Regions from separate parts of the Homo sapiens genome. Here regions 1 and 3 are each linked to region 2. The links come from fine-mapping of genetic effects on gene expression. A gene starts in region 2. Each other region holds a variant in brackets. All regions are shown on one strand. Distances are between the middles of the regions. Region 1 overlaps ELAPOR1 (endosome-lysosome associated apoptosis and autophagy regulator 1). Region 2 holds the start of SORT1 (sortilin 1). Region 3 overlaps CELSR2 (cadherin EGF LAG seven-pass G-type receptor 2).

What was found. PIP is the estimated chance that this variant, and not a neighbour inherited with it, causes the effect.
Region 1: its variant is fine-mapped to the expression of SORT1 in whole blood (INTERVAL, PIP above 0.99).
Region 3: its variant is fine-mapped to the expression of SORT1 in liver (GTEx, PIP above 0.99).

What each region holds. Positions count from the first base shown.
Region 1 is chr1:109,205,969-109,208,811 of GRCh38, reverse strand. It overlaps ELAPOR1 (endosome-lysosome associated apoptosis and autophagy regulator 1), which reads right to left. Exons shown (of 22, transcript NM_020775.5): 22 at 2,031-2,843. Among named protein-coding and RNA genes, the nearest start is that of SARS1, 6.5 kb to the left of the region's middle. The variant G/A (reference allele first, on the strand shown) is at 1,694.
Region 2 is chr1:109,396,346-109,399,188 of GRCh38, reverse strand. SORT1 (sortilin 1) reads left to right here and starts at 1,271. Exons shown (of 20, transcript NM_002959.7): 1 at 1,271-1,602. The coding sequence starts at 1,297. It overlaps PSMA5 (proteasome 20S subunit alpha 5), which reads left to right. Exons shown (of 9, transcript NM_002790.4): 9 at 1-147. RefSeq lists an enhancer at 137-1,118 and silencers at 1,145-1,274, 1,315-1,384, 1,395-1,494.
Region 3 is chr1:109,273,849-109,276,348 of GRCh38, reverse strand. CELSR2 (cadherin EGF LAG seven-pass G-type receptor 2) reads right to left here. Exons shown (of 34, transcript NM_001408.3): 34 at 598-2,327. The coding sequence ends at 2,300. Among named protein-coding and RNA genes, the nearest start is that of PSRC1, 8.0 kb to the left of the region's middle. RefSeq lists cis regulatory regions at 1,381, 1,366-1,385 and an enhancer at 66-2,097. The variant C/A (reference allele first, on the strand shown) is at 1,381.

The sequences.
Region 1 (2,843 bases), 190 kb after region 2:
GTATTTTACTTCTTTGTCAGTGATTGGGAAATTCTTAAAATCATTTCCATATCATTACACACCCCTCTCACTGCCCCGCAGTTTCAAGCTTGATTGTGTCTGTTGCTTGTTTGTTGCATTGCACAGTACACGGTTGTATTCATAAAGATTCATAGCGGTACTCCCATGGGACTGTTTTTGCCCTGTTATTTCCCACAGTGGGGTGACGTGGAAGGCTGAGTGGGATCTGTGAGGTGAAAAGGAAGCAGAGGGGCAGAGAGGAGAGCATATTCCAATGCTGGAGGCATGAAGGTGCTTATGACTCAGAGACCATCAAAAGCTCAGTGTGGTTAGAGTAGAAACAATGTTGGGAAGGTGGGCCGGTGGGCCGTTAGGGACCCTGTAGGCCACGTAACTGAATCTATTGGAGACACAGTTTCTTCCTCTATTGTAATGGGTGTAATGGGGATAGTAGCTGCCTCCAGGGCTGTTCTGAAAATGAAAAAAGGCAATGCTGTGAAAGCATTAAGTCCAGGCTTGACACAGATGCCAAACGAATGCGTTTTCTTTTCTACTTACCTTCTTAGAGTTTGGACTGTATGTTATAAGCAGGGGTGATGTTCAAAATATTTAACCACCAGTACAACCCAGGTACCACCCAGTCAAAGTAGATGTGGGTCATAAACAACCAGCCTTGGAGTGTAGGTGAGCTGCTGCCAATTGCTCCTGCCTGACAGCAATAAGGAGCCATCAGAGATGGCACATTTGAGTGCCATCAGATGTGTTAGAAAAACGGCTCTGAGTGTTCCAGCTCTTGTAGAATTTTTTTATTTTTTTTACAGACAGGGTCTGCCTCTGTCACCTAGGCTGGAGGGCAGTGGTGCAATCCACCATCATAGCTCACTGCAACCTCAACCTCCTGGCCTCAGGCGATCCTCCAGCCTGGCCCTCCCAAAGTGCTGGGATTACAGGCATGAGCCGCCACACCCTCTTTTAGAATTTGGTTAGCAGGTTTTCTGCCTTTTACCAGAAAACTTTTCATGAAAAAAAGAAAAAGAGCTCTGGCTACAGAGCAGGGGGGTGATACTGGTGTGGGAAGCACTGGCGCGGAGAGGCCTGTTAGAAGACTAGAAATTACCTAAGGACCCTGACGAAGAACATCTGGCACTTAGTGCCATTCAGTCTGAAAAGTGTGACATTCCCAACTCATCTATTAATAGCTGAGAGAATTATTTTTGGGGATCAAGTGCCCTCAACTAGAATAAAGTCCTGAAGCAGAAAAATCCTGCCAGGCACGCTGGCTCATGCCTGCAATCCCAGCACTTTGAAGGCCAAGGTGGGCAGATCTCTAGAACCCAGGAGTTTGAGACCAGCAACATGGTGAAACCCTGTCTCTCCAAAAAATACAAAAATTAGCCAGGTGTGGTGGCGCATGCCTGTAGCTACTCAGGAGGCTGAGGTGGGAGGATCACTCAAGCCCAGGAGGTTGGAGCTGCAGTGAGCTGAGATTGTGCCATTGCACTCCAACCTAGGCAACATAGTGAGCCTCAGAAAAAAAAAAAAAAAAAGAAAGAAAGCAAAAATCTAGCAACCTCAGGAAATGGTAGGCCCTTGATATCATCTAGGATTTTCTCCACATCTAGTCTGTAATAATCTACTTCATACCCAAAGAAGCTAATTTTGCTTCTATTTGTGGATTTATTGTTATGTGGCT[G/A]GCCTCATGTTTCCTGAAAGAAACCTGAGCAGAAGGGAAGGGAAGTAGCATGCGAAGTGGTTTATGAGTTATTTCTTTTGAGCTCATTCAATCTTGGTGTGTTGGGTATCATTAGATGCATTTTATTATTGTGGAAACTGAGGCTTTGGTTATTGACTGATTCCTCAACAAGTAGTGGGAGGCTTCTAGCCTATGTCCATCTTGTTCCAAAGTCTGTGCTCTTTTCTCTGCCTCTCTGCGAATGTGGAATCCTTCTCCTTTTCAGTTTAAGCTTCCAGGACACTTACATTTCCCACTCACCCCTCCAGCCACCCAACCCATGTTTAAGAAAAACAACTTGTAAGGTATGTTTTTATTTTACAAAAAAAAAAAGTGACATGCAATAACCCATCTTCTAACAAACTATTAACGCTTGGATTACAGGGTAAAAAGGAAATCCAACCAGCCCTGATGAAAAAAAATTCGATTTCACAAAGCTGAAAAAATCTATTACAAAGTTTCTGTTGTATAAATATAGTCAGTCTTATCTTTAATGTAGTCAGACAAAAAAAAGTTTTGTTGGCACTAAAACAAAAACAAAAGCAAAAACCCTACTGCTTGAATACACCACAATCTTCATTTGTATTCCCAGCCAAATACAGATGATGTCTATAGCATGACAGTTACTGCATGTTCCAGGACTCAAGGTAACCAAATGAGATTTAAACATTTTATCATACTCCCTCTACCAACAACAGCTTGGACAGACCACTTTAGCCCTGGGTCAAGGACTAAAGCCTTTGTTCATAGAAAATTGAACATGTAGGCCAGGCACGGTGGCTTACACCTGTAATCCCAGCACTTTGGGAGGCCGAGGTGGGTGGATCACTTGAGTCCAGGAGTTTGAGACCAGCCTGGCCAACATGGTGAAACCCCATCTCTACTAAAAACACAAAAATTAGCTAGGCGTGGTGGCGCATGCTTGTAATCCCAGCTACTGGGGAGGCTGAAGCAGAAGGATCACTTGAACCCAGGATGGGGAGGCTGCAGTGAGCCAAGATCATGGCACTGCACTCCAGCCTGGGCAACAAAGCTGACTCTGTCTCAAAAAAAAAAAGGAAAAGAAAATTGAACATGTGTTTGCTCTCAAGTGGGCGGACAACTCTGTGAG
Region 2 (2,843 bases):
TTAAGTCTTTTTGTTTGAAAGTTAATGTGACTGGAAATATTTTAATGTAAATATCGGGTTGGGTGCATTGTATCATTTTGCTCTACAATGACTATATCCTCATTTGGGTTTATGGCCAGTTTATAATTAAAAGTAATCTTTACTTGCTTTGAGTGTAATGACTTGCATATTTTGTATCTTTCTATTTGCTACCTTTTCTACTGAACAATTTCTAGCTTTCTGAAGGGATGGAGTCAGTAAGCTTAAGGATTCAGAACTGGTTTTACCTGTGCTACGTGTTGTAGAAGTTGTGTGTGCAGCTTCTGCGGTAAAGGGAACAGCGTAGGGGTTTTATTTTATTCATTAGAGGTGGATCGGGGTGCTAATTTAGAGGACATCACATACTGGAACCAAACTTGTCCGAAGCTCTCACTGCAGAGTTAAGGCACTTTGGTAAAATAAATGTGCATCTAGGAAATGATCATGTGTACAGTAGGCATTGGATCATTCTCTTGCCCCTCTTTTACCTGCCCCTAATGCCTAAGCTACATTCGAAGTCCTGGAAAACCTGTAAGTAATTCCGCCTTTGGCCTACCTCCCCTCAGAAGAGGAAGGTGAGAGAGGCCAAACGTATGGAAAGACTATTCTTCAGGCTTGCAGGAGTCACGGATGTCCTGATGTCTGTCTCCGTAGGATGTGGCCCACATCAGTTCGCATTCACCTTCTTGCAGCAAGGCAGCTGCTTAGCAGACAATGGGCGCTCCAGTGAGCGGGGTTTATAAAAACCCGAAGCCCCGGTTCATGATGGAGCCCCCTTTTCCAGCTGAGCAAGCTCAGGGATTTCCTGGGTAGGTTTTTCCAGGCTCTGCCTCACCGAAGGAATTTTAGGAGTGTCTCTGGGGAACAGGAGGGACGTAACCCAGCCCCAACTTGAGGGCGCTAGAGGTGCGGCAAGGGGTCGCGACGCCAGGAGCCCGGGGCTCGGCGGGAAGGTATGAGAAGCTCCTACGTGAACTCCACAAGCCGGGCCCGGGAGACGCCGGGCGAGGCGGGGTTGACCTCAGCAGTCTCTGCCCCGTTCCAGCCAATCAGTCCCGCATCTTAGCATCCGAATCCAGGACCCCCGAAGCCGGAGGCGACGCGAGCCAATGAGGAGTGGGCCGGGGAAGAGGGACAGGCGGCCAGCCTATGGGGCGGAGAGGCCCGGCCGCGCGTATCCAAGGAGCGCCGCGCTCGGCTCGGGGGTGTGGCGCGCGCCGGCGGGGGTGGGCGGGCGCGCCGGGCGGCAGGTGTCGGCGTCGGCGGCATTCGGCGGCGATGGAGCGGCCCTGGGGAGCTGCGGACGGCCTCTCGCGCTGGCCCCATGGCCTCGGCCTCCTCCTCCTCCTGCAGCTGCTGCCGCCGTCGACCCTCAGCCAGGACCGGCTGGACGCGCCGCCGCCGCCCGCTGCGCCGCTGCCGCGCTGGTCTGGCCCCATCGGGGTGAGCTGGGGGCTGCGGGCGGCCGCAGCCGGGGGCGCGTTTCCCCGCGGCGGCCGTTGGCGTCGCAGCGCGCCGGGCGAGGACGAGGAGTGCGGCCGGGTCCGGGACTTCGTCGCCAAGCTGGCCAACAACACGCACCAGGTGAGCGGGCGCCGGGCCCGGGAGCCGCTCGGGTGCGAGGTGCCGCCCGCGTGCCCCTCCCGGCCCGTGCGCCCCGCGACTCCCGGAGGAGACCCCAGCCCTGCCGCGCCCGCGTCCCCCGGGCCGCAGCCCCGAAACTGCGGCGGGCGGGCGGGCGGAGTCGGGCCCGGGCGGCCGGCGGGGCTGTGTTTTGTCATAGGGGAGGCAATCTTAGACTTCCACCGCATTCTTTTTTTTTTTTTTAAGTTGTCAAAATCTCTTGAACATCGTTTTTCGTCTGTATAAATAATCAGGACCCAGTAACGCTGTTAGGCCCCAGGAAGGTGAAGGAGTAATTAACTCTTGAGCGCTTGCAGAAGTTGGGCTGCGCAGAAGCAAAGGTGTGTCCTCTCTGGGTCAGTACTTTCCGGGTGGGAGAGGCGGGAGTTCAGGAGGCCCGAAGCAGCGATCTGGTCACCGTGTTTTAATAGTTAAGGGGACTAGCTTGGAAATGAGATGGCAATATTTATGTGATCTCTTTTACTGCTTCAGATTTGACCTTCTGTCATGGTACGGAAGTCTGACTAGCATGTCTATATCCCGTGGTGACAAGATTTTCAATAGTTAAGAAACGCATTGCACATATTCTGCTTTGAGCCAGCTCTTGGTCAAAAGACTTTCAAAATTATGGGATTTCTGTCCCTGGGGACAAGCAGCTCAACCTTTGCACACTACTGGACTGACAAAACTAATTATTAAGAAAGTCCTGGTTCCTTGCTTCAGCACAACTTGGGCATCTTTCTCCTATTTCTCTAAAATTAACAATTTAATCCTTGCTAGCCACATTTGCATAATGTATTTTCAATTCTATATATTTTCTCCCTTGCCTGTTTTCCTCTTTCAAAGAAAATGAATTGCACTTGGGGGCAGAGATGGGTGGCCAAGGCTCTGTGCCAGCACTTGTCCTTCTGTAACCGTTTTTCAGCGTCAGCCAAGCCTCAGTCTCCCTTTGGACTGCCTGGTTATCTGGACCATACTTGTTACCTGTAATAGAATTCTCTGATCTGAGGACACAAGACACAAATATTCAGGAATAATTGTGCTTAGTGTATCCCGAGCAGCAGCTGTGTAAAGGTAGCCAAGCTAGTGCTGGAGGGTGAGACAGGTTGGGTAGAATGAGTACTGGGAAGTCTTCCTACTTGATGAGAAAAAAAAATCGAATAGACTTCCTTCTCACAGTGGGGGATTGAGAAAGGCTTTAC
Region 3 (2,500 bases), 120 kb after region 2:
GCATATATACTTTTAAATATATATCATATATATACACAAAAACAAAACTTAGGCTGAGAAGTAATGTTGCAAAGCACACACTTGGCTTCAGTATGAGTAGCTGCTTCATTTTCCAATGGGAAAAAAAAAACAAAAAACAACCCTGAGCAGTATAGTTAGGAGGCACTGAGTCACTGACCACCATTCAATTCCAACCAGCCTCTCAATGCAGCCCTCCCTGCTTCTTGAATTCTGCCCCAGAAAACTCATCCCTGTCTAGGACTCAGCCCTGAGGGGCTGGGCTGGAAGGCTGCCTGCCCCGTGCAGCCTCTCCCACCGTAGAAGTCCTTTCCGTCCTGGTGAAAAGGACACCTTCCTGCCCGCCCACCATGTCTTCCTTGGAAATGCCAGGAAATGGGCTCTGTGCTGATCCAGCTATTTGGGAGCAGTGTCATGGACATGGGCAGAGGGACAGGCTTATCAGCCAGTGGTGTCTGAGTCTCCCGACCTCCCGGTGGGGCCTTCTGGGCCCTGCCGGCTCTTCTGTTTTCCAGAGACCAGACCTTCCTCCCTGTGGGAGGACAGGGTACCACACAGAAGCGGACAGTGACAGTGCTGTACCCGCACAGAACTAGTTTATTCAGTAGTATGGGGCATGAAAAAACAACAACAACAAAACGCTACCCTATTTACAGCAACAACCAAACTGTACAATCTGATGGTTAGTACCAAGTTAGCATCCAGCATCTTTGTATTTTTTTTAAATCAAGTCATCAGTAGTAAAAACCAGTTAAATTTTTAACCCTTTGCAGGAATTGCTGAGGGGAGAAGACGGGGGAGAATCCACGGCAGAAAAGCCAGAGGCTGGCCTCACAAATGAGAAACAGGAGCCTTTCTTTCCTGCCCACAGCCTCTTTTTCTAGCCACCTGCTCCAGAAGGAAAGTCAGTGACAAGTCTGGAATACATGCTTGGAGTAAATGGTGACTCAGATGAAAAGCAGTCGGCAAAACTGAGGAGAGGGGAGGAGAGGTGGGGAGATGATGGCCTGGGGCAAGGGGAAGGGCGTCAAGCCCCCAAGCCAGGGCTGCTGGGAACACCCAGCCTGTGATGGCCATATCAGACCCCCGGGACTGGACACGAACCCATCCCAACACAAAAAGCAAATAAATAAAACAAATATATTAACTCTCTCTTCACAGGGAGCTGGGGTGGAGTCGGGGAGAAAGAGGAACAGGACCTGGTCCTTTGAAGAAGAGAGCCAATTCCAAGAAGGGGTTAAAAATAGAACATGTCTCAGAGGCCACAGCAGGTTAGACAAAGTAGCATTTGTCTGATTTTGGGGGGTGGGGTGGGTGAGTGGACACCAGAACCCAGACTTGAAACCTGTGCTTGATTGAGCA[C/A]CCTCAGGGCAGCCGAGCCAGCACTGTGTTTACTCTTCCTCCCCCACCCACATCACAGCAAAGAAGCGCAACTTAACACATGACTGGCCTGCCCGGGGCGCGGGGCGGGCACGAAAAATGAAGCACTTTTGGGTCAGCAACTGAGCAAACACCTGGGCTGCCGCGCACGGCCAGAGTCCAGGAAAAGGAGAGGGGCTGGGGCTGCCCGACCCCCGCCTGGGGGCACAGGCTCCCCTGAAAATGTGTTCATGCAGCATTTGGGGGTCCAGGGGCGCTGAGTCCTTCTGCCCCCTCACCGGACAGGGCTTTTCCAGTTCCTGGGAGAGGCAGTGCGGGCAGGACGAGGCACACCCTTTGCCCTGGCCCCTCACCGTTCTGAGGCCTGCCCGGGTGCAGCCTGAAGGGTGTGAAGCCCTGGCTGCGTGTGGCTTTGTCCTTTCCTTTTGGTGATGGCGTATGAGGGGCAGGCCCCCCAGGAGTCCCTCTCCTCCCAGAGGCACAGCAGATGGGAAACTGAGGAGAGGCTGGGAAGCATCCTGGGAGGTCCTATCCTCTTTGGGAAGGGAAAGGGGAGTCAATTTCCAGCGTATAAAAAAAATGAATCCCTGAAGTCATGAAGAGTGGAGATCCTTTTTTAAATTCTTTTTTTCCTCTTTTCTGAAAAACTTTGTCTTGGAGATGTTGGCCCCAGGGGTCCAAAGTGCAGTGAGGGGAATGGTGGGGGGGGAGTTGGCACTAGATGGCCTTAGGTGGGGTGAGTACCCCTCCCGGCAAGGCCCAGGCTCCTCAGATGGACGTTTCGTCGCTGCTGCGGGCAGGCGATGGGGAGCGGGGCAGGATAAAGCACAAGACAGGAGCAGGGCATGAGTGCGGCTGGGGAAGGGAAGGGAGCCTCGGGCGTAGGAACCACGGCCCAGGGTTAATGCAGGAAGTTAAAGAAGAGAAATCTGGAGAGGCAGGAAAGGAAAGTGGCAGAAAAGGCAGACAGAGGGTTAGTTGAAACAGAGGAGAGAGTGAAAGCTTTCACCAGACGAAGGAAACAGGAAAGCACCCCCAGCTCCCCATCCTCCCGCACTCTGCCCTAGGCTGGGCTGCGCCGCGTAGAGCCTAGGAGGGGTGG